Linked DNA regions of Homo sapiens. The protein of the gene in region 1 interacts with the protein of each later gene in a pairwise test. Each region holds a gene or a part of one and is shown in the gene's direction. Other genes may lie near its edges. The genes, in order: HAUS2 and XRCC4.

Region 1 (16,050 bases):
GACTACAGGCACGCCACCACACCCAGCTAATTTTTGTATTATTAGTAGAGATGGGGTTTCACCATGTTGGCCAGGATGGTCTCGATCTCCTGACCTCGTGATCTGCCCACCTCGGCCTCCCAAAGTGCTGGGATTACAGCCGTGAGCCACGGCGCCCGGCTGCCTGGCTAATTTTTTTAATTTTTTGTAGAGACAGGGTCTCCCTGTGTTGTGCAGGCTGGTCTCAAACTCCTGGGCTCAAGCAGTTCTCCTGCTTTAGCCTTCCAGAGTGCTGGGATTACAGGTGTGAGCCATCATGCCAGCCTGTATTTCTAAATAAGTATTATGTATGATTATATTACTTCTTCACCAGAAAATGTTCAGTTGCTCCCATTTTCTGCAGTATGATTGTTGAGCATAGCACTCAGGATCATCTATGATTATGTTGGAGACTATGTTTTCAGCTACATCTTACCCCTCTTTTCACATATATGCTAACACTGGTGGTTATTGAGCATTTGTAATGTTTTTGATCTTTCTATCTAGAATACCTTTTTCTTCCCATCCATTATGAGCCTCATGAGGGTAGAGAGCTTGTTTCACTCATATTTGAATATTTCGTTGACTAACTCAGTAAGTGTTCATAAAATTGATTATTTTTGGACAGTAAACTTTTACTATGAAGAGCCAGAGAGTAAATATGTAAGGCTTTGTGGGCCATATGGTTGCAGCTACACAACTAGGTGGTTGTATAAAAGCAGCCAGAGATAGTGTGTAAATGGATGAGAGAAGTCATGTTCCAATAAAACTTTATTTCTGGACCATGAAATTTGAATTTCAGATCATTTTCTTTTCTTTTTTAAGACGGAGTTTCGCTCTGTCACCCAGGCTGGAGTGCAGTGGCGCGATCTCGGCTCACTGCAACCTCTGCCTCCCAGGTTCAAGCAATTCTCCTGCCTCAGCCTCCCAAACTAGCTGACTAGCTGGGATTACAGGCGCCTGCCACCACGCCTGGCTAATTTTTTTTTTTTTTTTTTGAATAGAGACAGAGTTTCACCATGTTGGCCAGGCTGGTCTCAAACTCCTGACCTCAGGTAATCCACTTGCCATGGCCTCCCAAAATGTTGGGATTACAGGTGTGAGCCACTGCGCCCAGGCTTTTTTTTTTTTTTTTTTTTTTTGAGACAGGGTCTCACTCTGTCGCCCAGACTAGAGTGCAGTGGCAATCTCAGCTCACCACAACCTTGTCTCCTAAGCTCAAGCAATTCTCCTGCCTCAGCCTCCCGAGTAGCTGGGATTACAGGTGTGCACCACTCCTGCCTGGCTAATTTTTGTATTTTTAGTAGAGACGGGGTTTCACCATGTTGTCCAGGCTGGTCTTGAACTCCTGACCTCAAATGATCTACCCACCTCGGCCTCCAAAGTTCGGGATTACGGGCATGAGCCACTGTGCCCAGCCTGTTATAAAATATTGTCTTTGATTTTCTTTTTCCCAACAATTTGAAAATATAAAAACCATGCCTGGTTCACAGGCTGTACAAAAACAGGTAATGGGCTGCATTTATTTCATGGACTATAGTTTTCCAGTCCCTGGCCTATCTGATCTCTAAAGTTCTTTGGCCTGGACGCGGTGGCTCACGCCTGTAATCTGGGCACTCTGGGAGGCTGAGGCGGGTGGATCACCTGAGGTCAGCAGTTCTAGACCAGCCAGGCCAACATGGTGAAACCCCAACTGTACTAAAAATACAAAAAAAAAAAAAAAAATTAGCTGGGCATGGTGGCAGTAATCCCAAAAACTCCCAGCTACTTGGGAAGCTGTAATCCCAGCTATTTGGGAAGCTAAGGCAGGAGAATCAGTTGAATGCAAGAGGCAGAGGTTGCAGTGAGCAGAGATGTTGCCATTGTGCTCCAGCCTGGGTGACAAGAGCGAAACTCAGTCGGTGGCTCACGCCTGTAATCGCAGCATTTTGGGAGGCCTAGGTGGGCAGATCATGAGGTCAGGAGATCGAGACCATCCTGGCTAACACAGTGAAACCCCGTCTCTACTAAAAAATACAAAAAAATTAGCCGGGCATGGTGGTGGGCGCCTGTAGTCCCAGCTACTCGGGAGGCTGAGGCAGGAGAATGGCATGAACCCAGGAGGCAGAGCTTGCAGTGAGCCGAGATTGCACCACTGCACTCCAACCTGTGCGACAGAGTGAGACTCCATTTAAAAATATATATATTATATATAATATATATTTTATATATAATATATATTTTATATATATTATATATTTTATATATAATATATATTTTATATATACATTATATAATGTATACATTGTATATAATGTATATTATATATAATATATACATTGTATATAATGTATATTATATATAATATATACATTGTATATAATGTATATATTATATATATATGAAGTTCTTTGCTGTGCTAGCATTCTAGAAAGCAAGATGATAGAGAAAATTATGGATGAAGTCTAGGAATGCACAAGATAATACTCAATTCTGAGATAATGTGCATGGACTCATGGAATGAAAGGATGAAAAAGAAGGGGTAACCTTTTTAAAAGAATAATTATGCCTGGATACAAATAATCCTTTAACTAAAAGATGAGAATGTGAACATACACAGTATGAATGACTTGTAGGCAACTGAGGTCATTTAACGAATCAGATAAATAATTCCATGAAGGCGAAAATATTTGATTTCAACCCCGGAAGCTCTGAGAGACTGGGCCTGAGTCATTTGGAAAGGTAGAGGTGATTCTCCAACAAATTTAGCCTTTGAATCCTTTGATAAACTATCAGTAATACAAATCTATTTTGTATGGTACCTTAGGAAATAATACAAAGGGAGTGTGTTGTTTGTTTCTCTTATTTTTTTTTTAAATATTTGAGCAAGTGATTTGTGATGGTGAAGGTTCTAAAACAGGAATTACACATTGCTACTATTTTACTTTGTACTTCATGTTCAAAGGCAGTGTTGAACATAATATTTTCTCATATTTTAGACTATGGGCATGCTATTCCAATGTACCTAGAAACTTTTTGTGACATTCTGCTACTTTCCTTATTCATTTACCAATAGGAGATGTTAAACATGTCTAAGAAAACAGTTTCTTGTTTTGTGAACTTCACCAGACTACAGCAGATCACAAATATTCAAGCTGAAATCTACCAGGTAAATCATTTTGTTTTCACTTTCTTTTTTTTTTTTTTTTTTTTTTTTGAGACGGAGTCTTGCTCTGTCACGCAGGCTGGAGGCTGGAGTGCAGTGGCACAATCTCGGCTCACTGCAAACTCCGCCTCCCAGGTTCACGCCGTTCTTCTGCCTCAGCCTCATGAGTAGGTGGGACTACAGGCGCCCGCCACCATGCCCGGCTAATTTTTTGTACTTTTAGTAGAGATGGGGTTTCACCATGTTAGCCAGGATGGTCTCGATCTCCTGACCCCATGATCTGCCCGCCTCGGCCTCCCAAAGTGCTGGGATTACAGGTGTGAGCCACTGCGCCCGGCCTGAACTTTTCACTTTCTACTCCTAGTATAGGAAAACAAAAACAAAAGTTGGCCAGATGTAGTGGCTCACACCTATAATCCTCGCACTTTGGGAGGCCAAGGTGGGAGGACTGCTTGAGCCCAGGAGTTTGAGACCAGTGTGGGCAACACAGGGAGATCCCGTCTCTACAAAAAATTTTAAAAGTAACCAGACATGGTGGCACACACCTGTAGTCCCAGCTACTTGGGAGGCTGAGCTGGGAGGATCACTTGAGCCTAGGAAATCGGGGCTGCAGTGAGCCATGTTTGGGCCATTGCACTCCAGCCTGGGTGACAGACGGAGACCCTGTCTCAAAAACAAAAAAACTTTATTGGTTCAAACAGCAATTCCTTTGAACTTAGAACAGTGTCTAGCACATAACTAGCTAGCTACATGTTTACTTACTAATAGTAGTTACAGTAATAGTAGTAAGAGTAGCAGCAGCAGGGCAAGAACAGCAAAATGAAAAACTTCAGTAAATCCCCTGGACTCTTTTTTTTTTTTTTTTGAGACAGAGTCTCACTCTGTCACCCATACTGGAGTGCAGTGGCACAATCTCGGCTCACTACATCCTGACCTCTGGTGATCCACCTGCCTCAGCCTCCCAAAGTGCTGGGATTACAGGAGTGAGCCACCGCACCTGGCCATGGACACTTTCTGATTGAGCTAAATGTTACTTTTGTTCCTCATGTAGAAAAACCTGGAAATTGAACTCCTGAAACTAGAAAAAGATACAGCAGATGTTGTTCATCCTTTCTTTTTGGGTAAGTGGTTTGGTTAAGTGGATAATCACTGGAATTTCAACTTTTTCTTGGATTACTGTAAATAAGCACCAGTCAGTCAAATTATGATACACCATCATTTTTCCAGGTGTTGTCCCAAAGCTAATGAAATCTTGTATTTCTATGCTGAAATAGAAGTTCTGTTGGCTTGAGTAGTACAAATAGCATAAAAAGTCACCAAATTGGCTCTTCAAAGTCAGGAGAACTTGAAAGACAAAGTCTGAGGAACTTTTCAGATTAAAAGAGACTAAAGGGACATGACAACTAAAGCACTGTATGATCATGGATCGATTTTTTATTTTAATGAGATGGGGTCTTCCTATGTTGCCTAGGGTAGTCCTGAATGGCTCAAGCAGTCCTCCCAAATCACCCTCCCAAGTAGCTGGGATCACAGGTACATACCACCATGGCTGGCAATGTTTTGAATATTTGATGAGAAAATGTTCTTGTGGCCAGGCGTGGAGAGTCACGCCTGTAAACCCAGCACTTTGGGAGGCCAAGGTGGGTGGATTGCTTGAGCCCGGGAGTTCAAGACCAGCCAACATGGTGAAACCCTATCTCTACAAAAAAAATACAAAAACTAGCCAGCATTGTAGCATGTACCTGTAGTGCCAGTTACATGAAAGGCTGAGGCAGAAGGATTGTTTGAGCCTGGGAGGTCGAGGCTGCAATGAGTTGTGATCGTAGCACTCCACTCCAGCCTGGGTGACAGAGTGAGACCCTGTCTCAAAAATTAAAATTCTTTTTGCTGTAAAGGACATTATTGGGATACTTAGTGATGTTTAAATATGGACTGTATTAAATATTGGTAGTATTGTATTAATGTTATTTTTTGAATTTGATAATGTGCTGTAGTTATATAGGAGAATGTTCCTCTTCTTGGGAAATACATGCTAACGTTTTACAGGTAAAAAATATCATGCTGTCTGCAGCTTACTCTAAAGTGGATCAGCAAAAATTAGAGAGAGAGAGAGAGAGAGAGAGAAGAGAGAGAAAGAAGATAAAAAGAAAATGTAGCCAAATGTTAATAATCGGTGAATAAGTAAAATGTATGTGTGAGTTCACCAAGCTTTTTTTGAAACTTTTCTGCAAATCTGAATTTTTCCAAAGAAGAATTTTAAAGAAAGGTCAATTGGCAGCCATTAACTGAATGGGGAAAATAATGAGATAATCAGAAATAGCTTGTAGGATGACTTTTTTTTTTTTTTTTAAGAGTGTGTCACTCTGTAACCCAGGCTGAAGTACAGGTCGCTGTAACTTCAACACGTGGTTTCAACTGATTCTCTCAAGTAGCTAGGACTACTGGCATGTGCCACCATGCCCAGCTAATTTTTGTTTTTTCAATTTTTTTGTAGAGATGAAGTCTTGCTATGTTGCCCAGGCTGGTCTCGAACTCATGGCCTCAATTCTCCCGTTTCAGTCTCCCAAAACACTGCGATTACAGGTATGAGCTAGAGCACCAGCTAAGGTGACTCTTTTTCGATGGTCTTTTATAGACTATTAGAGTCAGGGATAGGAAAAAAGACTTTGTGTTAAGAATATAGCTCTGGCTATAAGAACTGAATAAGAAGTAGAGATGAGAAACACAGAGAAAGAATTTAGCACTAGATTTGGTTATCACTAGGAAAAGAGATAATAGAAATATATTAGATATACAAAAACCGACTAAGAGAAAGTTGTTGAAAATGAAATTGGTATTGGTATTAAAGACAGCAAAAAGGAGACAGGAGGGTAATGATAGGATGAATTTTTGACATGGGTAGTGTCAAACCAAGGCAAAGAAGAAATTATTCTGTTATTTGTCCTATTGCTAACTATAATTACTGTTTTTTAATTTGTATAGCTCAGAAGTGTCATACTCTGCAAAGCATGAATAATCATTTGGAAGCAGTGCTGAAAGAGAAGAGATCCCTTAGGCAAAGACTGTTGAAACCCATGTGCCAGGAAAACTTACCTATTGAAGCTGTTTATCACAGGTTAGACTGAAAAGTAGAAATTAACAGTTACACCTGTTTTCTGAGTTTACTTTTTGTTTTGCAGTTACTTTGTAGCAGAATTCATAAAACAATTAGTGATTGTATTTGTTAACATTATTAATGGTGATATATTAAATCAGAAAGAAAATCTTTGCTTTTAAACCATTATACCTATGGCAAAAAGGAAGAACTTGGCCATCGTGTTTTGGGAATTATAAATTATGAGTTTAATGAAAGAAATTAGATCCATAACATGTAACAATAAAAACTGTTTGTATGTGAAGTAAATTCATTGTTGTAAAGTACATTCATTGTTGAGTTAATGTTGCCTATATGTAAAAATTCTATTGGCGGGGTTTAACTGGGGCAGATGAAAACACTATCAACTAAGGGAGGAAAAAACCTGGATTCTGTTCTCATCTCTACTGTTTATATGCCTCAAAGCCTTGAGCAAATGATTTACATTTTTGCCTTAGTTTCCCAATAAATAGAATAGAGATGAGTTCTATTGCCCTCTTCCTCACAGAGTATTACAAGTATCAAATTGAAGATGTAGATTATGACTAATGATAAATACTAGCCTGGACAACATGGCAAAACCCTGTTTCTACAAAAAAAAAAAATATAAAAATTAGCAACACATGATGGAACACACCTGTATTCCTGAGCTGGGAGGGTGACCTGAGCCCAGGAGGTCAAGTCTGCAGTGAGCTGTGATTGCACTAGCCTGGGTGACAGAGTGAGACCCTGTCTCAAATAAATACGAAGCAAGCATCTGGGGATCTCATTGCTAACTTTCTCCGCCAGTGCCTCACTAGCTTAAGCAAATCAGTATCTTAAGTGTCAGATTTTTTATTTTGTAGGAAAATAATAGATATACAAAAACTTATTCTTCCAAAAAAACAAAACAAGGCTGGGCACAGTGGCTCATGCCTGTAATCCCAACACTTTGGGAGGCCGAGGTGGCTGATCACTTGAGGCCAGGAGTTCAAGACCAGCCTGGCCAACATGGTGAAACCCCATCTCTACCAAAACATACGAAATATGCTGGGCATGGTGGCACATGCCTGTAATACCAGCTACTGGTGAGGCTGAGGCAGGAAAATCACTTGAACCCAGGAGGCAGAGGTTGCAATGACCTGAGATTGTGCCACTGCACTCCAGCCTGGGCAACAGGGTGAGACTCTGTCTCAAAACAGAAAACAAAACCCCTTTCTTGTGGCTATATTCAGTATCTGTTTAGTACATTATCATTACCCTTAATGTATATATTGTACTACATCTAAGAACTAGGCAATGATTTGAAAGCATTTTTGCAAGTGCAGAGATTCAAAGTAGCTTTCTATGTAGGCTATTTCAGTTAAGTACATTTATCCTTATTGTCTTCATTCTTCACAGAGAATGAGTAAGTTGAAATGGAATGAGGCCAGGCGTCATGGCTCACGCCTGTAATCCCGGTAATTTGGGAGGCCAAGATGGGTTGATCACTTGAGGCCAGCTGGGAGTTTGAGACCAGCTTGGCCAACATGACAAAACCCTGTGTCTACTAAAAATACAAAAATTAACTGAATATAGTGGTGCACGCCTGTGATCTCAGCTACTCAGGAGGCTGAGGCACAAGAATCACTTGAACCCAGGAGGCAGAGATTACAGTGAGCCGAGATTGTGCCACTGCACTCCAGCCTGGGCAACAGAGTCAGACTCTGTCTCAAAAAAAAAAAAAAAGAAATGGGGCTGGGCAAGGTGGCTCATGCCTGTAATCCCAGCACTTTGGGAGGCCAAGGCTGGTGGATCACAAGGTCAGGAGATCGAGACCATCCTGGCCAACATAATGAACCCCTTCTGCTAAAAATACAAAAATTAGCCAGGCGTGGTGGTGGGCGCCTGTAATCCCAGCTACTTGGGAGGCTGAGGCAAGAGAATTGCTTGAACCCAGGAGGCAGAGGTTTCAGTGAGCCGAGATTGCACCACTGTGCTCCAGCCTGGTGACATAGCAAGACTCCATCTCAAAAAAAAAAAAAAAAAAAGAAAAGAAAATGGAATGGGGTTTTTTTATCTAGGGAGAAAATGATTAACATTGAGGTTTCTCTAACATTAAGTTGGATTCCAGATAGGATTACTGTTGTCTCTTTCCATTTTTTTATTTGGATGACAAGTTGCTTAAAGTGAAAGAGAAGGACCTTTTTTTAATCACTAATATTTCTATGAATGCAGGAAGGTTGTTATTGGCTCTCTAGGTTGATTGTAATTCTTATCTCAAATTAAAAGTCCTGATTAAAGGAGAAGAAAAGGAACGTAAAACAATTAAACTTTAAAAAATGGTTGACTTTTTTCTTTCTCTTTCAGATATATGGTACATTTGCTGGAGTTGGCTGTGACTTTCATTGAGAGATTAGAAACCCACCTTGAAACAATTAGAAATATTCCTCATTTAGCTGCAAATCTAAAGAAAATGGTGAGTATTAATATAGCAATCTTCAGTTATTTTTTACTAGAAACTTAGAGGTGTGCTCTCCCAGTTTAGCTTTTTAATAGCTAATATTACGAGCTAGTTAATTTTTAAATCAAGAAGTATTTTCTTGGCCTGGCATGGTAGTTCACACCTGTAATCCCTGCACTTTGGGAGGCCACAACGGGTGGATCACTTGAGGTCAGGAGTTGGAGACCAGCCTGGCCAACATGGTGAAACTCCATCTCTACTGAAAATACAAAAATTAGCTGGGCATGGTGGTGCGTGCCTGTAATTCCAGCTACCCGGGAGGCTGAGGCAGGAGAACTGCTTGAACCTGGGAGGCAGAAGTTGCAGTGAGCTGAGATCGTGCCAGTGCACTCCATCCTGGGCGACAGCAAGACTCCATCTCCCATTAAAAAAAAAAAAAAAAAAGAAGAAGAAGTGTTTATTTATTTAGACCTTGGATTTAACATTTTCTTTTTTATATAATTTTTATTTAGAAGCCATTTTAAATTATTTTATTCCAACATTTAATAAACATGTGTTGGCTTCATTGTGCCGTGGCTATGCTACATGTATTGTGAAAGATAGATATGACCAATCCCTGCCTTCAAATTCTCAACGTTTGGTGAGACAGCTGTAAAATATACATTTTCTACTTATAGGATTATATTTGCATAATAAATGCAGCAAAGAATTACAAAGAGATGCCATCTATTGAGCATAGAAAAGGGAGGAATTACTTCCAGTTTAGGAGGATTCTGAGTAGGATAGGGATAGGAAGACTTCAATAAAGTTTTTGTTTTGTTTTTTAAATAGAGACGAGTTCTCACTATGTTACCTAGGCTGGTTTCGAACTCCTAAGCTCAAGTGAGGCACCCGCCTCGGCCTCTTAAAGTGCTGAGATCACAGGCATGAGCCACCATGTCCAGCTTTGCAATAAAGATTTATTTAGGTGTTAGCAGTAAGCTGAATCTTTATTTATTTATTTATTTTCTGATATGGAGTTTCACTCTTGTTGCCCAGGCTGGAGTGCAATGGCACAATCTCGGCTCAGTGCAACCTCCGCCTCTTGGGTTCAAGCGATTCTCCTGCCTCAGCCTCCCAAGTAGCTGGGATTACAGGTGCCCACCACCACACCTGGCTAATAGTTTGTATTTTTAGTAGAGACGGGGTTTTGCCATGTTGGCCAGGCTGGTCTCCAACTCCTGACCTCAGGTGATCCACCTGCCTCAGCCTCCCAAAGTGTTGGGATTAAAGGCCTGAGCCACCGCACTTGCCAAAGTAAGCTGAATCTTAAGGAATAAGTGAAATTCGGACATGCATCAGAAAGAATAGTTTGGCCAAAAGGAGCAATGTGAGGAAAGACATAAAAGTCAAAGAACCCAGAGAGTATGGGGGAAAAGTGATACTCCACTTTGGCTGATGCGTAAAGGTATTGAGGAGATTAGCTCAGGGTTAGTTTATGCAGTGCCTTAAAAACCAGACTAATAACCTTAGACTTTACTGTCTGAGTATTGGGGAGCCATTGAATGTGTGTGTGTGTGTGTGTGTGTGTGTGTGTGTGTGTGTGTGTGTTTTCTTTTTTTAGTGAAGGGTGCAGAGGAGTGACTTGATTAGAACTGCCTTAATCATGGAGAAAATATTGGATAGAGCAGACTGAGCCTTGCTACTCTTGAGTATGGGCAGAGAGTATCAACATCACTTGGAAGCTTGTTATAAATACAAAACTACAGACATCATGCACCCTAGAACTTCAGAATCAGAATCTACGTTTTAACAAGTTCCTCAGGTGATTCCTGTGCACATTAAAGTTTGATCAGCTCTGGATTAGAAGACTAGGCAGAGAAACCAAAGGCAGAAAAACCTGGAGACTAATTACCGTCATTCAGATAAAAGATTTAAAGCATAGGAATACAGAAGATAATTTTTTTAGATTTTGGAGGTCACATTTTTAGAACTTGGCTATGAATTGGACAAGGGACACATCAAAAATAATGAAGTTTCTAGTCTGGGTGACTTGAAGGTGAGTAGTATCAAGTGTGGGTTAAAGAAGTTAGTAAGTGGGCTGGGCGCAATGGCTCACACCTGTAATCCCAGCACTTTGGGAGGCTGAGGTGGGTGGATCACGAGGTGAGGAGATCACGACCATCCTGGCTAACATGGTGAAACCCCGTCTCTACTAAAAATACAAAAAATTAGCTGGGCGTGGTGGCACGTGCCTGTAGTCCCACCTACCTGGGAGGATGAGGCAGAAGAATCGCTTGAACCCAGGAGACGGAGGTTGCAGTGAGCTGAGATTGCGCCACTGCACTCCAGTCTGGCAACAGAGTGAGACACCATCTCAAAAAAAAAAAAAAGAGGTTAGTAAGTTTATTTTTTGACACATCTTGCACATGTAGTAAATGGTCAATCATTTTTGAACTGTAGTTAGACTGAGTTTGAGATATTGAAGGTACATCCAGATAGAGATTACCAGTAGTCTTAAATGTGGGCCTGAATTTTAGGAAGGAAGTTAGGTTTAGCAATATAAATTGAGGGTCATCTGCATTGAGTGATTATTGAAGACAAAAGAGTTGAACTCACAAAGAGTAGGTTTGTACTGTAAGAAGTGGGAAAGCACAGTTTTAAGGAGCTTTTGAAGTAAGGGGCTGGAAAAAGATCATGTGTTAACCTTTGGTATCAGTTACTGATGATATAATGAATTAATAAGAGACATAATTTCTCCTGTTTCCCTTTTCAAATGTTACAGAACCAGGCTTTAGCAAAGATGGATATATTGGTGACTGAGACAGAAGAACTGGCAGAGAATATACTCAAGTGGCGTAAACAACAAAACGAAGTTTCGTCTTGTATCCCCAAAATATTAGCTGAAGAAAGTTATCTTTATAAACATGATATTATAATGCCTCCTTTACCTTTTACTTCTAAAGTTCATGTCCAAACTATTAATGCCAAGTAGTCATCAACTTTATTTTTGCTTAATTATGTGTAGTCATATGAAGTCTATTTCTAGTTGACTGTAACATGGGTATTAATAGTCTTTGCTGCTGGTAATACTGAAAGAACCTGCTTTATATTGGAGTATCAAGATCTCAGGTTCATTAAGACCAAACTGACTTTTCCTTTGTTTTTCATATATTTTTATTCTACCTTTCAGTAAAACTAGAGAAGCTAAAAAATAGCCATGACAATTTATTAATATAAGTGAATTAACCATTTCTCAGGTGGGAAATTCTCTTTTTTTAAAAATGTGTGTTTATCGTCTGGTGTGGTGGCTCACACCTGTAATCCTAACACTTGGGGAGGCTGAGGCGGGCAGATCACTTAAACCCAGGAGTTCAAGACCAGCCTGGGTAACATGGTGAAATCCCATATCTACAAAATAAACAAAAAATTAGCCGACCATGGTGGTGCATGCCTGTAGTCCCAGCTATTCGGGAGGCTGAGGTAAGAGGATCACCTAAGCCTGTGAGGTCATGGTTGCAATGAGTCATGATCACGCCACTGCGCTACAGCCTGGGCGACACAGTAAGACCCTGTCTCAAAAAAAAGAAGTGTGTTTCTGGCCAGGCACGGTGGCTCACGCCTGTAATCCCAGCACTTTGGGAGGCCTAGGTGGGCAGATCATGAGGTCAGGAGTTCGAGACCAGCCTGGCCAACATGGCGAAACACCTGTCTCTACTAAAAATACAAAAATTAGGCCGGGCGCAGTGGCTCACACCTGTAATCCCAACACTTTGGGAGGCCGACCCAGATGGGTGGATCACCTGAGGTCAGGAGTTTGAGACCAGCCTTGACAACATGGTGAAACCCCATCTCTGGTAGAAATATAAAAAATTAACCGGGCATGGTGGTGGACGCCTGTAATCCCAGCTACTTGGGAGGCTGAGGCAGAATAATCGCTTGAACCCAGGAGGCAGAGGTTGCAGTAAGCCAAGATCGTGCCTCTGCACTCCAACCTGGGTGATGGAGCAAGACTCCATCTCCAAAAAAATAAAAAATACAAAAATTAGCCAGGCATGGTAGCATGTGCCTGTAATCCCAGCTACTCAGGAGGCTGAGGCAGGAGAATCACTTGAACCCAGGAGGCAGAGGTTGCAGTGAGCCCAGATCGTGCCACCGCACTCTAGCCTGGGCAACAGAGCAAGACTCTGTCTTAAAAAAAAAAAAAAAAGGTGTTTCTGAATTAGAAGGGTCTTCTTGAATCTGAAAATGTCTATGATGATTATTCCTGTGGGAATGTCACTAAGTATGCAGAAAAGAGTAACACAGCCAGCCTGACTTATCCTTTGAAAGGCCTGATTATAAGGTTTGTCCTCAGCTGTTGCATCTGGGAACTTAGATATCAGAAGGTATCTTAGTCTGTTCTGCTGTCATAACAGAATTACACAAACTAAGTATTTTATAATGAACAGAAGTTTATTTGGTTGACAGGTGTGGAGGCTAGGCAGTCCAAGAACATGGTGCCAGCATCTAGTGAGGGTCTTGCCATGGCAGAAGGCACCACATGGCAAGTGAGCATGAGAAAGATATATGGGTCTAAACTTAGCCTTTTATCATGAGCCCACTCCCAAGATAGCAGCACTAATTCATTAATGAGGGCAAAGCCCTCCTTACCTAATTACTTTTTAAAGGTCTCATAACACTTTTACAATGTCAATTAAATTTCCAACACTTGAACTTTGGGGGACATATTTAAACCTTAACAGGAGGGCTCCACTCACTGAAAAGAGTCGTTCATGGTAGCTAACCTGTGGTTTGTGCTGAAAACCTGCTTTCTTCCTGGGAGTCTAGAATTTTGGTACATGGTAGGTAGAAGGTACCTACGTGACCAGCCCCCAGTAAAAACCCTGGGCACTGTATCTCTAACAAGTTTCCCTGGTAAACAACATTTCTCACATGTTGTCACAATTCAGTTGCTGGTGGAATGAAACAACAGATATGTGTGACTCCACTGTTAGAGGACTCTGGAAGCTTATACCTGGTTTCCCCCAGACTTTGCCTCTGTACCTTTTCTCTTTGCTGTTTTGCTTCATATGCTTTTGCTGTAATAAATCATAGCTGTGTGATGATATGCTGAGTCTTGTGAATTCTCCTAGCAAATCATGGAACCTGGAGGTAGTCTTGGAGACCCTGGCATACAAAGCAGTTCCTAAGTGTTTACTGGTAGCTGTAGGAATAGGCAAAGAAGAAACAGCAAAGAAAAAGGCACACTGTGGTATAACTTTGGAGGTTTACCTTGCAAAATGCTCAGATATTTTACCTATCAGAGGTTATTGTGCATATAATAGAGAGTGATATACTAACAACTGCCTCAGGATATACTCTTTTTAATCAGTATTGTAACTAACCTTGGCTTATTTTACTTTTAGACTTGGGGTTCTATTTTGCTTTAAAACATGTACATCAGTTTTGTTTTTTGTTTTGTTCTTTTCTTTCCTTTTTTTTTTTTTTTTTTTAAAGACAGGATCTCACTCTGTCACCCAGGTTGCTGAGAGTGTGGTGTGGCCCAATCTTGACCTCACTGCAGCCTTGACCTCTCAGGCTCAAGTGATCCTCCCACCTCAGCCTCCCAAGTAGCTGGGACTATAGGCACGCGCCACCACGCCTGGCTAATTTTTGTATTTTCTGTAGAGACAGAGTTTTGCCATGTTGTTGAGGCTGGTCTTGAACTCCTGGGTTCAAACGACCCTCCCGCCTCAGCCTCCGAAAGTGCTGGGAGTACAGGTGTTAGCCACTGCGCCTGGCCTCATTGTACTCCTTAACACAAGAAGACTTCAACAATGATAAGTAGTTGTTTATAAGGAAGCAGGATCATTACCAAAATAAATCCTGCTAAAACAACAGGAATCATGTTTTAAAGCCTAGTTTGCTAATTTTTGCTAGTAGGATAAGAGTGATCGTAATATCTCGAACATTACATAGACACTTAAAACCTTTAGTTGTATTTCATCAAAAATCTGTTCATACCCCACGTTGGTTTCAAAACATACTATGCTTTTTCTTCGTGTTATTTCCTATATTCATTTTTGTGTGTATGTGTATGTCACAAATATTGATATGCCTGGTTGTTTATTTTTGTTTTCTATTATGCCTTTTTCAAAATATAAAAATAAACTTGTAATTTCTAACTAAAATTTTTTAGTCCTAGTCTGAATTTAAAGTGATAGAAAGGACTGATGCACTGTTTAACTTATACAGTATAGGCATATAGGCTCTCAGAATCAAAAGAGCTTGAGGTAAGTTAAGCCTGAGGTCTACTTCAAAGAGAAAGCTAATTTAATACTCTTCCAGAGTCAATCAGTGCTGATTAATTTTTCTTTAATTATTCAACTTTTAGATGTGTGGATATTAAAAAAAAATTAGCTCTGCATGCCTTTTTTTGTTGTTGTTGTTGTTCTTGTTTTTTAGATGGTCTTGCTCTCACCCAGGCTGGAGTGCAGTGGCACAATCATAGCCCACTGCACTCTGAACCTCCTGGGCTCAATGGATCCTTCCACCTCAGCCTCCCAAGTAGCTGGGACTACAACTGTGCCCCACCACACCCAGCTAACTTTTAAATTTTTTTGTTGAGATGAGGTCTCGTCGTGTTGCCCAGGCTGGTCTTGAACTCCTGGGTTCAAGCAATCTTGGCCTCCCAAAGTGCTGGGATTACAGGTGTTAGCCCCTTGCACCTAGCCTGAATGTCTGTGTTTCCTACTTACACTAGAAGAGGTGTGTGAGATTTGCAAATTTATTGCCAGCATAACAGTGATGCCAGTTTGTGAAGACCATTCTGGAGGAATTGAGATGCTGCCTGGTTTTCCTAGCATTTTTCTTATTTTCTTTCTTTCTCTATGTGACTCTACCAGTCTGACCCCTGATTTATCCTCTGAAACCCTCAATGAAGTCAGGAACAGTCTGAGGAATAGCAGAACCTAAAAGATTTCTTGACATGCAAAATCTATAATAGAGTTGAGATTTTAATAAGACTGTAATTAGTGTATTGTGGGATTTCTTCACATATCTGTAAAACACATGAATTTACATAAAAGATTTATCTCACAATTTGGGGAATCCACTAATTGAGTTTACTAAAAAAATTATGCATTAGACCCTTGAACAATATAAGCTTGAAGTGCATATGCAATTTTTTTTTTTTTTTTGAGACAGGGTCTCACTGTCACCAGGCTGGAGTGCAGTAGTGTCATCTCAGCTCACTGCAACCTCCGCCTCCTGGGTTTGAGCAATTCTCCTGCCTCGGCCTCCCAAGTAGCTGGGATTACAGGTGCACACCACCATGCCCGGCTAATTTTTGTATTTTTAGTAGAGACAGGG
Region 2 (16,050 bases), on another chromosome or scaffold:
TTTCTACAAGTATCTTGGGAGAAAACACTGGAATCTGGTTTTGTTATTACACTTACTGATGGTCATTCAGCATGGACTGGGACAGGTAATACTAAAAACAAAGTTTTTATAAGTAAAATTTAAGTGTGCTATTCTTCAGTCCTCAGGGATACTTTTCCATTAGATATTGGGTAAAACTGATATTAATTTTACTTGCTATTGCTGTCAAATTTATACACAGGTTTGTAATATTTAATGCCACTTTCTATATTTAATAGTAATAGAAAAACAAACGTGTCCTAGAAAATTCCGGTTACCATTTGAATCTTAGTAACTTGGATTTGTTCAGAGGTTTAAAATGACCTCTTTATAGAAAATATAAATAGTACTTTCTAAATACATCTTTTCTCAGGACCCCAGGGAAGAAGTCTGGGGCAGAGGAAGGAGATTGGTTAGGTAAATGGGTATGTGTGTTGCCTTGGGGCAATGGGGTAGTGGTGGGTTATTTATTTATTTATTTTCCCCAGTGAACATATATTACATTTGTAACAAAACAGGACCAGAGTCTAAAAATTTGTAATGCAAGGTTCACACCCACATTTAGGATCTTGGCTGTGATTTTAGGAAATAGATTTTTTTAACTCTTTGGTAATAATATTTTAAAAATGCTAATGACCCTCAAATCATGTATGGAACATGGTGGATATAAAGTAAAAATATGTAGCCTTATATTTTCCTTATATACGAAGTTTTAATACTCTTCTAAAGTATCTTATTGAAAGATTTAAAGAACTATTTTTATAATTATGCAAAAGTCTTTTCTAGAGTTATGTTGTGAATAATGTTTTCTGTAAGATAATTTTTACATGTTAATTTACATACTATTTATATCTTCTATTAACTTTAGAAATATTTCTCTAGAATTTGTTACCATGATTATTATATCGTCTTTAAAATTACAATACATTGTAAAATTTTGTTTCTTTCTTGAGCGTTATGAATTATGTTATACAACACAGTCAAATTGAATTTATACTTACAGAGTTTCAAAAAAATTGTCTTTTTTGACACAGAACAGGTAATGTTGATGTAGGGATTCCTGTAAAATAAAGAATTTTCAGGGGTAATATTTGCAGTACTTATTATGATATCTATTTAAGCTACACATTTATCTGTAAGAGAAAGCAGAAATCAGATTGGTTGTTGCAGTTCAAGAGTAGAAGATTTGTCAGCTTGGTTTTATGTATGCCAGAGAGATTATATCCAGAAGACAATATTTCTTGTTTTAGGGTGAAGAGTGTATAAGGCTAAAGACAAGGGCAATAGATTAATGCTGGTCATCTGGGTAAGAAGAGCAGTTCTAACAACACAGCTTGGAAGCAAGTCCTAGGGGAAGTGGTTGCTTGTATGTAAGGAATACTGTATTTATAACTTTAGGTATTTCTAATTGGCAAATGGCGTATTCTGTATACTTAGTTGTTGTCAGACAGATGACCTTAAGGTGTTTCAGGAGCCTTAATTATCAAAGGAAGAGGCTGAATTCTAATCTAGTCCATAAGCCTCATTCACCAAGATAAAAATCAGTGATAATATGTTATTTGAAATTTTTTAATCATTAAGTATTGGGGGAAAAAAGAACACTCCATTAACTCTTATCTCTTAATTTAACCAGAAATGTAAGAACCTTACATTTATGGAACATTTCGTTTATATCATACAATTGTGCTGGCATCATTCTTAATAATATTAACATGAATTATCATTTCACTAGATGGTACTGATTTATACTGAGGGTAAGAGACACATTTGGTTTGTCAACACTCTTTGCAATTATCTAGACCGGTACCTACGAAATACATTCTCAATGAATACTTTTTTGATTGAAAGAATGAAAGGATGTCTCAAATATATAAAACTGGTCTGCGAAAAAAGAAAATAAATTGTTCATTTTAGAGTTAGCATGTTTTTGAATGAAAACTCCAGTTTTATATTTACTTATTGTTGACATTTGTCATAACTGCAGTATATTCTACCATTTATTTTTTAGCTAGTGGAATTTAATGTGACAAAAATGTGATATCAAACTTATGTATTCTCAGGTGGATTGTTACCATTTTGGTTTCCTGTACCAAACAAGCTTTAAAACAGAAAATTTTATAGTGCACTATGTGGTCATTTTATTTTCAAAAATATCTAATAGTGTTTAAATCTCTCATGTGTTTTATGCCTTCATTCATTTCTGTTTTCTTGTTTACATATCAGGGACAAAATAGGAAATCAAATAATATAACACTGTGCCCATGTTTAGTTAAGGCTTATTCCATAAATGTGATCTGGTACTTTACATGTAGACAATAACATCACTAAGGACATTGAAACAATTAAATAATTGAAACATGGAAACGGATTTCCTTCCGATACCTCATCCTGTTTTTTTTTGTTCAACATTTTGATTACTGCAACCTTCAATTTGGACAATTTTTTTTCTCTTTTTATTTGAGTGAAATTAAAAGGATGTAAGTTTTCTTTTAATCTCCCCTACACTAAACTCACTGATTTCCATTAGCAATGTTTTATCTAATGAATGTTTTTGAGGTCCAATTATCTAATTATCATGTGGTCTATCATCACATCAGTATTACAGGCGGTTATATCACAGGGGTAAGTCACAAAGTGGGTTAATGATCGATGACTCTGACTTTCATAAGAATTCCTATTGGCAGTAGGAAACTTATATCACCCATCTCTGGAGTAGTTTGAAGTTTATTAAAGAGTAAATTAAACTTTACTAATTGTTCTATTATCCACTAATTAGATCCACTTATAATTATCTTGAGTGTAAATATTTTTTGACTTATATGGAAATAGTGACAGAACTCAGTGGAAAGAGGATTTTAATAAATCAAGCAGTGAAATGGGTTTATGATGCAATACCAACTAGAATCCTAATGGTATGATAAGACTGTATGTCTTCTGAGCTCCAGTACAAGCTTAGGATGTGTGCAGGCTTTTGGCTAGTTATATATAGGTATCTGAAGGAAAAAAATCTTCTTTCCTCACTTACATCTTCATCTACCTATAAACACTGCAAAAGTGATGCTTTTCAGTGTTAAAGTGAGTCTCAGTCTGACTTCTACCAGTTCCTTGTTTTTTGGTCATGTTGGGCTGCTCATGTTTTATGCCTTATTATGTGGTTCAGTTGCATTCTTGCTGAATTTTATTATTTCCATTGCCTTTATTCTTGGTCACTGAAGTTTTAGAGCATCGCGTGCTTACAGCTATACTTTTTCCAGATGTTCTTGGCACAGAATTCAAAACTGGTGACCAGGTTGGTTTTTTAGGATTGAAGCCCTATGTAGGCAGTCAGATTTCCATGTTTACTTTTATAGGAATTTTTCAAGTACATTTTTGAACAAATAGCTGTTTTACATAATTAATTTCCTTTCATACGTTTTTTTCTCCTTCAAAAATTAAATATTCCGTAATAATCAGCACAGTATTTATTAGGAGAGGAAAATAAGAGGATATCTAGGATGATAACTGACAGATATCTAAAATGTTGTCTAAGATATTAGCACTTGAATTTGAGCTCCACAGGCTAGCATTTTTGGAATGAATGAATGATTACATATTTTCAGACAGGTATCTTTTCATTTTAATGAAATTTAGAATACTTTTAACTAGATGCTTTTTAAATAGATGTTCTCTGTTTTCTTTTGTGTTTTCTTCAAGTTTTTCTATGGCCGCATTAAAGATGGCATCTACAAATTTATTTCCTATTTCTCTGTGAAATAACTGTTCTTCCTAGGTATTGGTGAGTTAAAGTTAGATAGTTACTTTTTAACATAATGCAAACACAAAATATGAAATTATTCCTTAAATAGGAAGCATTTATCTTCTTCTTTTTTTTTTTTTAGAAGAGCTACTAGGGCATTTGAAAGATCAATAGGTTTGATAGTGATGATCATATTAAATGTGTCCACTTCCAATAGAGAAAATGTGAAAGTGTTTTAGAAGCTGTTAATATATGAATATAAGCTATTTTTATTCTTACCTCCTTCCAAAGGTTGTGTGACGTATGAGAATCATATTTTATTATCAAAACTTGTTATCAAAAATTGATCATATAAAAATATTGGTACCTTGCAAGACTCCCTTTTTCATTAACTGTCATGGGTCTTCCAGACACTTGATAGCATAGAGACCAAAGGTATGAAAATGTGTGTTCCATTTTAGGGATTCTTTAATCATGATTTCCTTATATTCTGTAATATTTTATACTAATGTTGTTTTTCAAAATTATGGATGGAAATAATTTATCCAATGTTTCATGTCTCTGCTTCACCTCAAAATAAAACATGCAGAGAGATATGAGTATTAATCCCAGCTTCACTAGTTACTTACTTCATCACCCTAGACCATTACTTGATCTCTGTGAGCCTCAGTTTTCTCTTTTGCAAAATGAAAATAATATCTGTTTTTCAGTTTTATAAGGAATTAAAATAGATAAGTGTAATGCATAAGTATGAAATTATACAACCATATGAGACTTTTATCATTACTGTGATAGCCTAAATTAACACAGGAAACCATCCAACCACACACACATTCCAACAAATAACGAGATTGAATCTTGTAATTTTAAAAACAAACAAGTATGCAGACCCATTGCCACTTTTGAGTGTAAGAAAGGGAAAACCTCAGACACCATGTTTGAAGAGGTATTTCAAAACCAAAGTAATTGATGAGAATTAAAGCTTACTTGTAGATTCATGGAATATCTGAACTAGATATACTTCTAGATGACAGTGAGTATAATGTTTGAGTGAGGTAGAATGTTGAGGCTTCAGACCTCTTAGGGAATTGGAGTTGAGCTCTCAGCATAAAGAAAGGAACCTGGAAAATATATGCTGTTAATAAAATAATCTTTTAAAAAAACTACTACTCTCTGTCCAGAGGATGCAGCATAAAAACAGAACAATCCCTAAGGACTATGAGTGAATAAAAGTCTCAAGAAAAATCAGAACCCTAAACCTGTGTTATGTGTGGATGGGAGGTTTAAAATGGAACACTTTGCCTCAAATGTAAAAATCGAGGTGAGAAATTAACTTTCAAAACTAGTCCCAAACTGATAAAACTTGTAATGACCCCCAGAAAGGCAACCTTCATTTAAGACCACTTCTTCCCAGAGCACTTGCCACTTTGGCTAGAGGTGAGCTGTACTCAAATGTTACAAAGCATGAAAGGAAAACAAGTAAAACAAGAATTTTTCCACAGATAGAAGAAACATAATTTATACCCCAGGAGCCACACATAAATACAGAAATGAAAGAGATCTTAAAATACGTTTATTTAAATATTTAAAAGAAGGGTAGGATAAGAACAGGATATAATGACAAAGGAACAAAGATAATATCTAGAATTGAAAATATAATTATTGAAACAAAAATCTCAATGATAGTAAAACATCAGCTTTAAAAATACCTAGATAAGAGAATTGGAAGCGGTCTCTAGTATAGTATGTGTTGCAGAGGAGATGCTCGTACATTTTAGTTTCCTTCCTATTATTTCCTTATCATCTCCTTTCATCCATATTTTCTGTTGTTGGCACATGATATGAGAATAGTGAGCTCCACTTTTGCTTTTGTTTTACTCTGCCCATATGAGTGAGAAACACAGTATAGGCTATTGAATCTTTGATGCAAGGAAGAAAGATGTTATAAAATACTGAACTTATTATTCATTGTAGGAAATTATCTGGCTTTGACCTAAGAGCAGTTACACAAAGTGGGAGTTTCTGTAATAATTTACAATGCGTTTCATCTGAAGACAGAGAAAGAATGTCAAGGGTTTAATGTATTTTACGAGATGTGAGTCTAAATTAATGCATTTCTCAAAAATTGCTAGTTCAGTAAAAAGGAATAATTTGATTTAAAAATGTGTAGTATAGGGATTGATTTTACTTGTTTGAATTTCTGTTACATGTGATAAATTAGTACTAACAGATAAACTAATATTTTCTCATGTGTAGTCATTTACTTTTCATTTTAAAACTTTTGTTAATATTTCCCATAGTTTCTGAATCAGAGATTTCCCAAGAAGCTGATGACATGGCAATGGAAAAAGGGAAATATGTTGGTGAACTGAGAAAAGCATTGTTGTCAGGAGCAGGACCAGCTGATGTATACACGTTTAATTTTTCTAAAGAGTCTTGTTATTTCTTCTTTGAGAAAAACCTGAAAGATGTCTCAGTAAGTAAAACTTTCCAAAATGTTACATAGTAAAATGTCAGAGCATTTATTGAGGAATTATATTTAAATTTAAGTGACTACTATATTATTCCCAGAACACCTCAGAAGCAAAAGCTTGAAAAGTACTTGGTTTCCAAATTAGAAGAATACTTCAAAGCTAAAGTCATTAAATATATTAATGAATCATGAAAAATAAATATTGGAAAATGTGTTTAGTTTTTAATGCTTGAAAAATTTTAAAGTATTACAGAGTTAATTATACAAAAGAATAATCTTGAAAAAGGTGAGATCAGAAGTTTTAGGCCATCGTGACAGGTCTTATTGAAAAAAGTTTTGTGAAATATTGATTTTAAGAAATAAAATCAATCAAAATATATCTTTGAATATAGAATAATTATGACTTATTTTCTACTTTACTAGAGTATATTTGAAATTGAAAAATGCATAGTAAGTATTAAGGATACTTTATATTGTCAGATTTAAAAATATTAAAATAGAAATAACTTGAAGCCTAAGCTTTGCAAACAAGAGTATCTGCTACTTATTCTGCTCAGTTCCTGCACCAATTCAGATCAAGGCAGGTGGTTTATTTATTAAAGTCTGGCACTAATTATTTGTATATTTTACCTAAGTTTAATAGATACTGAATTTGTTTTTTTAACCAGTGGTTTTCAGTCATATATGAGATCTATCATTTCTGAAGGAGAGGGAAGGAAATGTTTGCTACATTAAGTTAACAGAAATGTATTGAGAATTTGTTTTAGTGCTCAACTGAGTTTAGGAAATTCTTTTAAATCAACCTTTTAAATTTGGAATAATTAAAGAGATTTCATTAATTAGATAAACATTTGTAGAAACAAATGGAGTCATTATAAATTTATATTATCGTGTAGGGAATAATGCAGAGAAACTACCCTTAGTAATTTATATTTAAAATAAACATACTTTTTCTAATTAGCTGCCAATTTATATAAGTTTCAATATGCTGAATTTCTTAAAATGGTAATTTAAAATAGGTTCAGTAAGAAGGTTGGAACTAGCTACTACAATTTTGTTATTTATTGTAAGTGTTCTTTCCTGTGGCCCAAGCTCAATCGGATGATATTATATGTTACAGAAGTGCAGACTCTTCTAATGTTTTGAAGCAGATCATTGCCAAATTGGGATTAATGCCATTTCCCATTCACTAAACATTTGCATGTAACAACTAGCATTATTTTGTGCAGCGATTTTCTAGTTTTTATCTGTTTCACACATATTGATACATAATAAATTCCAAATTAGTGAGGTACATTTTAGAAGGCTGAAAGGCTTTTGAAATTTTTGACATGCTAAAAGACGGGGCTTGGTACAGTTGGCATGTATATTAATCTGTTCTCACACTGCTAATAAAGACATACCCAAGGCTGGGTAATTTATAAAGGAAAAAGATTTAATTGACTCACAGTTCCATATGGCTGGGGAGGCCTCACAATCATGGTGGAAAGCAAAAGAGGAGCAAAGTCACATCTTACATGGTGGCAGGCAAAAGAACATGTGCAGGGGAACTCCCCTTTATAAAATCATTAGATCTCATGAGACTTATTCACTATCATGAGAACAACACAGGAAAGACCCCTCATTCAGGATTCAGTTACCTCCCGCTGGGTCCCTCTCATAACACTTGGGAATTATGAGAACTACAATTGAAGATGAGATTTGGGTGGAGACACAGCCAAACCATATCATTCCGCCCAGCCCCTCCCAAATCTCATGTCCTCACATTTCAAAACCAATCATTCCTTCCCAAGAGTCCCCCAGAGTCTTAACTCATTTCAGCATTAACTCACAAGTCCACAGTCCAAAGTCTCATCTGAGACAAGGCAAGTTCCTTCTACCTATGAGCTTGTAAAATCATAAACAAGTTAGTTACTTCCCAGATACAATGAGGGTACAGGCATTGGGTAAACATACCCATTTCAAATGGGAGAAATTGGCCAAAACAAAGAGGCTACAGGCGCCATGCAAGTTCGAAATCCAATAGGGCAGTCATGAAACCTTAAAGTTCCAAAATGATCTCCTTTGACTCCATATCTCACATCCAGGTGATGCTAATGCAAGAGGCGGACTCCCACAACCTTGAGCAGCTCCACCCCTGTGGCTTTGCAGGGTACAGCTCCCTTCCTGGCTGCTTTCATGGGCTGGCATTGAGTGTCTGTGGCTTTCCCAGGGGCACAGTGCAAGCTGTCGGTGGATCTACCATTCTGGGGTCTGCAGGAAAGTGGCCCTAATCTTATAGCTTCACTAGGCAGTGCCCCAGTGGGGACTCTGTATAGGGGCTCCAACCCCACATTTCCCTTCTATACTGCCCTAGCAGAGGTTCTTCATGAGGGCCCTGCCCCTGCAGCAAACTTCTGCCTGGACATCCAAACATTTCTTTCTTTTTTTTTTTTTTTGAGACGGAGTCTCGCTGTGTCACCCAGGTTGGAGTGCAATGGCGTGATCTCCATCTCCACTCACTGCAAGCTCCGCCTCCTGGGTTCATGCCATTCTCCTGCCTCAGCCTCCCAGGTAGCTGGGACTATAGGCGTCCGCCACCATGCCCAGCTAATTTTTTGTATTTTTAGTAGAGACGGGGTTTCACCATGTTAGCCAAGATGGTCTCAATCTCCTGACCTCGTGATCCGCCCGCCTCAGCCCCCCAAAGTGCTGGGATTACAGGCGTGAGCCACCGCACCCAGCGCAGACATTTCTATACATCATCTGAAATCTAGGCAGAGGTTCCCAAACCTCAATTCTTGGCTTCTGTGCACTCGCAGGCTCAACACCATATGGAAGCTGCCAAGACTTGGGACTTGTACCCTCTGAAGCAAGGCCCGATCTGTACCTTTGCCTGTTTTAGCGACTGCTGGAGTGACTGGGATGCAGGGAACCAAGTCCCTAGGCTGCACGCTGCAATGGGGGCCTGGACCTGGCCCAGGAAACTGTTTTTACCGCCTAGGCCTCTGGAGCCTATAATGGGAGGGGCTCCTGTGAACATCTCTGACATGCCTCGGAGACATTTCCCCCATTGTCTTGGTGATTAACATTTGGCTCCTTATTACTTATGCAAATTTATGCAGCAGGCTTGAATTTTTCCCCCAAATATGGGCTTTTCTTTTTTATTGCATCGTCAGGCTGCAAATTTTCCAAACTTTTATGGTCTGCTTCCTGTTGAATGCTTTGCTGCTTAGAAATTTCTTCTGCTAGATACCCTAAGTCATTTCTCTCAAGTTGAAAGTTCCACAGATCTCTGGGGAAGGGGCAAAATGCCCCCAGTCTCTTTGCATAGCAAGAGTGACCTTTAGTTCCCAACAAGTTCCTCATGTCCATCTGAGACCACCTAAGCCTGGACTTCGTTGTCTGTATTAGCATTTTGTTCCAAGCCATTCAACAATTCTCTAGGAAATTCCAAACTTTTTCACATCTTCCTGTCTTCTGAGCCCTCAAGTCTCTAGGAAGTTCCAAACTTTCCCACATTTTCCTGTCTTCTTTTGAGCCCTCCAAACTGTTCCAGTCTCTGCCTGTTACCCAGTTCCGAAGTTTCTTTCACATTTTCGGGTACCTTTATAGCAGCACTCCAGTCTACCGGTACCAATTTACTGTATTAGTCTGTTCTTACACTGCTAATAAAGACATACCCGAGGCTGGGTAGTTTATAAAGGAAAGAGGTTTAAATGATTCACAGTTCCACATGGCTGGGGAGGCCTCATAATCATGGCAGAAAGAGAAGGAGGAACAAAGTTACGTCTTACATGGTGGCAGGCAAGAGAGCATGTGCAGGGGAGCTCCCCTTTATAAAACCTTTAGATCTCATGAGACTTATTCACTTTCATGAGAACAGCACAGGAAAGACCCACCCCCATGATTCGATTACCTCCCACCATGTTTGTCTTACAACATGTGGGAATTATGGGATCTACAATTCAAGATGAGATTTAGGCCGGGTGCCTCCCAGCACTTTGGGAGGCTGAGATGGGCGGATCACCTGAGGTTGGGAGTTCCAGACCAGGCTGACCAACATGGAGAAACCCCGTCTCTACTAAGAATACAAAATTAGCTGTGCATGGTGGCGCATACCTGTAATTCCAGCTACTTGGGAGGCTGAGGCAGGAGAATGGCTTGAACCCGGAAGGCAGAGGTTGCGGTAAGCCAAGATCACACCATTGCACTTCAGCCTGGGCAACAAGTGTGAAACTCTGTCTCAAAAAACAAACAAACAAACAAACAAAAAAACAAGATGAGATTTGGGTGGGGACACAGCCAAACCATATCAGCCTGGATGGAGTACTTGCCATGACTGGCAGTACATCAGGTTTTACCCTTTCTATGAAGAAAGAGCTTTAAGTCCTCTTGATTCATGTCTTCTACAGTTGGTTTGGCATATATCAACATCAAAGACTCATAATAATCCTGAAAGATTTTTGCTTACCACCCTGAAAGTAAACAACTTTATCAGAGCCAGCATCTTGAACTACAGGTACTACCTTTTCAACAAATGTTCACAAGTAATGGAAGCAGCCTGAAAGATTACCAGCAATGCAAAAAGTGTGCTGGTTCCCCAGAGAATGTCTTAAAGCACTACATTGCAGTCTAAATATCTGTCTCCTTATTTATTCATTTATTTATTTGTTTATGAGAAAGAAAAGAATATTCTCAGAACGGCTTGACAAGGAGGAGTTTATTCATGGCTTGGCTTGAGAGATATTTTGGATATTTAGATGAGGTAAAACTTTCAGTGGATGGATGCAGCTGAGAGATCACAAGTTCATTTGGCCAAGGTGTCATGGGAGTCTTCCAGTATTCAGGATGTGCTTCTGCAGACTGATTTCAGAGTGACAATGTCTTGTAGATTCATCTGCTGGCAAAAAAAATCTGCAGACAATGGGAAACATGGCAGACAGAATACTTTTTTAAAGCTAATTTTGCTTGGATGACCTAAAAATTGAGAAGGAGTTTGTAATCCTTTTCTTGATGATACAAACATCTGATTGTTGCCAAAAATGACCTCCTAAACTTAGAAGAAAGGAAAAGAATGAACATAAATTCAACTAAAAAAGTTGTGAATTCTGTTGTTTCTTAATGTAAGGTTGCTCCTCCGTGACAAAGACTTGCTCCCAGATGCATACCTCTGGGAGTCAGGGTTTTAGGCATTTATTGCCATCAGTTCAAGAAATTTTGTGTATCTAATTGTGTGTTCACTGTGCAATTTGAACATTTTGAATATCTAACTTATATAAGAATTGTTTGAAATTTACATTTATAACAAACTTTCTTTTTTTCTTAAAAGGAAGTAACCACTATTTTAGTATTCAAAAATACCTGATATTTTGAAAATCCTGTCTTATGTTTTGTCTGAGTGAAAGAATTACCAGTTTCTCTCTCTCTTTTTTTTTTTTTTTTTTTTTTTTTTTTTTTGAGATGGAGCCTCACTCTGTCACCCAGGCTGGAGTGCAATGGTGCAATCTCAGCTCACTGCAACCTCTGCCTCCCAGGTTCAAGTGATTCTCCTGCCTCAGTCTCCTGAGTAGCTGGGATTACAGGTGCATGTCACCATGCCCAGCTGATTTTTGTATTTTTAGTAGAGACGGGGTTGTGCCATATGGGCCAGGCTGGTCTCGAACTCCTGACCTCAAGTGATCTGCCTGCCTCGGCCTCCCAAAGTGCTGGGATTATAGGCATGAGTCACTGTGCCCAGCCAGAATTACCAATTTCTAATGTAGTGAAATATTTAAAATTTTTAGCTTGTTTGTCAATATTTATACTCATGTTTTGGGAGCAGTGGGTCAGCAATTTTCATGAGATTGCTTTTGAGCTTATCCTCCCAAAACTTCCCTTAGGCTTTAATTGGCTTTTCTTTATAGATAACATAGATCCTTTTATTTTAACTTCATTCTCATTTGAATAAATGTTGGGCGAACAGCTACACACTAATTTCTTTTCTCCATAGAGTGCGAACCCATGTGACCCTTCCTGCCTTAGTGCTCTTCATTTAACAGTAGATTGTTCTGGTTGAAAGCATACTATAGTGCCAGCATTTGGAACTCCTCATCTCTTCAGCACAAGGACTGTCACTCACACAAGAGATCATTTGTGTGCTTTGGGCCACTGTTTTCCCTCTACCTTTAACAATTTATCCTGATTTTGCCATACAGACTTTGTCATGCTAACAATGCATCTTAATGAATAATGTATTCATCTTCCTTTTTTGCTTTCATATCTCACTCTGTTTCTTTAGAAAAATATTCATTTATGAGTCAAAGAAAAACAATTATTTTTGATAAGAATAACCTTGGGCTAGTCATTTAACCCTAATTTCCTCATGATTCTGTTTTTTCATCTGTGCAATTTTTAAGTGATTTCTTAGATTAATTCCAGCTTAGCTAACATATTGTAGAGCTACATATATATGTGTGTGTGTGTGTGTGTGTGTGTGTGTGTGTGTGTGTGTGTATGTATGTATATGTATGTATATATAAACATTTTGGCTATAAGGATATGTCTTTTTAAAAAAATTAATTTAATTTTATTTTAAGTTCTGGGATACATGTGCAGGATGTGTAGGTTTGTTACATAGGTAGACGTGTGCCATGGTGGTTTGCTGCACTTATGAAGCCATCACTTAGGTAGTAAGCCCAGCATGCATTAACTATTTTTCCTGGTGCTCTCCCCTTGCCTGGACCCCCTGACCAGCCCCAGTATGCATTGTGCCCCTCCCTGTGTTCATGTATTTTTGTTGTTCCCCAGTGAAGGAAGCTATGAGGTTTGAAGAAAAATTAAACATGATTTAATACATATATATATGTGTATGTATATACATCTCCACACACACACACACACACACACACACACACACATATGTATATAGTGAATATCTAAAACTCTAGAATTTGCTACAAGTCTCTAGTAGAATTAATGCAAAGTCTACTTCTATTTCTTTACCCTCATTTCCCCTACTACTTAAATAGCATAGAGGTTTATTTTTCAGTGATATAAAAATCCAAATAGGCAAACCTGGGTTAATATAATGGCTTTATGATATTGGAGACACAGGCTTCTTTGATCATGTTCCCTTGGCTTTTTTTTTTTTCTTTAATTGAGACAGGGTCACACTTTTTTGCCTAGTCTGGAGTACAGTGATGTGATCATAGCTCACTGTAACCTCTGACACTTAGGCTCACAAGAACCTCCTACCTCAGTCTCCCAAAGCACTGGATTACAGGCATGAGTCAGTGTGCCCAACAGTCTACTTTGTAATTTTTAACAGGTAGTTTTTATTTCATAGTCCAAGATGACTTGTCTAGTTTTACTATTATGTTCACCTTTGAGGCAGCAGGACCCAGTTAAAGAGACAGGAAATAATATGTGCTTTTTCTTTAAGACAGTCACTCCCAAATTTGATACATTCCTTTTGCTCACGTCCCATTGGCCAGAATGTAGTCACATGGCTTCACCTAGCTGCAAGGGAATCTGTGAAATGTGATCTTCAGCTGTGTCTTGTGCACAGAAGTTTTCATTACTGTGTAAAAACTGGAAGATGGATATCAATGGTCAACTAGCAATCTATGCATTTAACATGCAGGGAAGATTGAAATATCATTCAGAAGGCTTTGCTGTTTTTGTTGCAAGGATGTTTGTTTAGCATTTCATTACAAATAAGGGTTTCAGTCATATTTCAATTTAAGAAATGTTACAACATAAAGTAAGTATACTTTAAAGGATAAAGTAAGTATCCTACTCTGTATCTTACTATATTTTAGAAGTTTTATTTATTTTTTAGTGGAAAATCCATTCTAAGTTTCAGACAGCCTTCCCACCATTATTTAATTGACGTTTCTCAAATATATGAAAATGAGGTAAAACCAGTTTGCCAAAATAAACATCCAGAGTTCTTTTTAAAAACAGCAGTCCAAAATCCTATATTATTGCCATGTGTCCCTGTGGTTTCAGGGACTCTGAATTCAAAGGGCTATTTCCAGATGAAATATCAGAATTGTAGCATTTATTGTGTATTCTGCCAAAGATTTTGTCAAAAATAGTAATGACTTTCAGGTCTGTGGGAATATGGGTTGCAGATGTGTTGTTTGAATGCCTGAAAAGGAAATCATAGTATTCTTTATTTTGGTGATAAAAGTATTTGTGTACATGTGCCATTTTGATACTGAACACTATATAATTTTTGTGATCTTTTTGGAATGTGAGGACTAAGTAATGTAAGTGGTGAAGAAATCCCATTAAAAGTATACGTTTTCTAGCTAAGCCATATATTAAATTTTATAATTTGAAAAACAAAAATATCAGTGTTTAGTTATACTGTTTTTTGTTTGTGGACCCATTTTCTTTCTTGCTTCATATTTTTCTGCCTTTATTTAAAATGTTTGCTTCAATAATAAATATTTTAAAGTCATTATATCTTAACTTTTTTGTTCAGAAAAGGAACAACTTAGCATAAGAACAGAGCAGAAGTAGGCATGGCATAGTGGCTCATGCCTGTAATCCCAGCACTTTGGAAGGCCAATGTGGGAGGATCACTTGAGGCCAGGAGTTCAAGACCAGCCTGGACAATATAGTGGGACCCTTCTCTCTACCAAAAAGAAAAAAGTAAATTAGCTGGGCATGGTGGGACATGCCTGTAGTCCCAGCTACTTAGGAGGCTGAGGTGGGAGAATAACTTTAGCTGGGGAGTTTGAGGCTGCAGTGAGATAAGCTAAGGTTGTGCCAGTGCACTGCAGCCTGTCCAGCCTGGGTGACAGAGACAGAGTGAGACCTTGTCTCACAAAAAAAAAAAAAAAAACAATAACAGAAACAAAAACAAACAAACAAAATAAAAAACCAGAAGTAGAAAATAGCATTGTAAAAACTATGTTGTAAAAGGACATTTCAATTTAACAATATTAATATTTGCTTATTTTCAGTTAATCTACTTCAGCATGCAATCTCATACTTCATCAAGCGCACTTGGTATTGTCACTGTTTATACATGAAGCAATACATGCTGAAAGTATAAGTGAGTTGCTAAGGAAAACAGGTAGTAAGCTAAGCTAGGATAGAATTCAGGCCGCTGTTTTATGAATACCAAATCAGTTTTTTTTTAAATTTGTTTAGGGATAATTTACAAACAATTAAATGTACTTATGGTGAGTATACAGTTTTCAGTATTCATAAAAGCACTTTCAAGCCTCTTTGCAGTCAGGCTCCCAACTACCTGTTTTCTTCTCCCAACCCTACCTACTCTCAAGGCCCCAGGCAGCCATTGGGCTGCTTTCTTTCGTTATAGATCAGCTTTACATGTTTTAGAATTTCATGTGAATGGAACTATGCAGTGTGTATTCTGGCTCATAACTTTATTTGCATAGTATAACATTTTTGAGATGTCTCATTGTGTGCTGTATATCAGCATTTCATTCCTTCCATTGCTGAGTAGTATTCCATTGTATTGATATACCACTTTTACTTTTTGATGAATATCTGGTGATTTCAAGTTGTGGGCTGACATGAATAAAGCAGCTATATACATTCATGTCTAAATCTTTTTGTGGGTATGTTTTAATTTTTAACAACTTTATTGTGATACAATTAATTTATAAAATGTGCATATAGAAAGTATACAACTGGGTAAATTTTAAAATGTGTACATACCCATGAAACTGTCACCATAATCAAGATGATAAATCCTCAACCTGCCCAAATTTTTTAGTACCCATCATAATTCCTTTCTCCCTCCTTCCTACCTCTTCACTCAGTCCCCAGAAAACCACTGATTAGATTTCTGTCATTATAGATTGGTTTACATTATCCATAC

What was found.
Region 2: the proteins of HAUS2 (region 1) and XRCC4 interact in binary tests that used the Homo sapiens proteins (3 or more experiments, as listed by UniProt).

Annotation. Positions count from the first base shown.
Region 1 is NC_000015.10:42,555,125-42,571,174, forward strand, and holds the end of HAUS2 (HAUS augmin-like complex subunit 2), read left to right. Parts: intron 1-3,073; coding exon 3,074-3,166; intron 3,167-4,214; coding exon 4,215-4,284; intron 4,285-5,657; coding exon of another isoform or gene 5,658-5,746; intron 5,747-6,145; coding exon 6,146-6,278; exon of another isoform or gene 6,279-6,566; intron 6,567-8,624; coding exon 8,625-8,733; intron 8,734-11,482; coding exon 11,483-11,692; 3' UTR 11,693-14,870; downstream 14,871-16,050.
Region 2 is NC_000005.10:83,104,974-83,121,023, forward strand, and holds part of XRCC4 (DNA repair protein XRCC4), read left to right. Parts: coding exon 1-85; intron 86-6,054; coding exon 6,055-6,230; intron 6,231-16,050.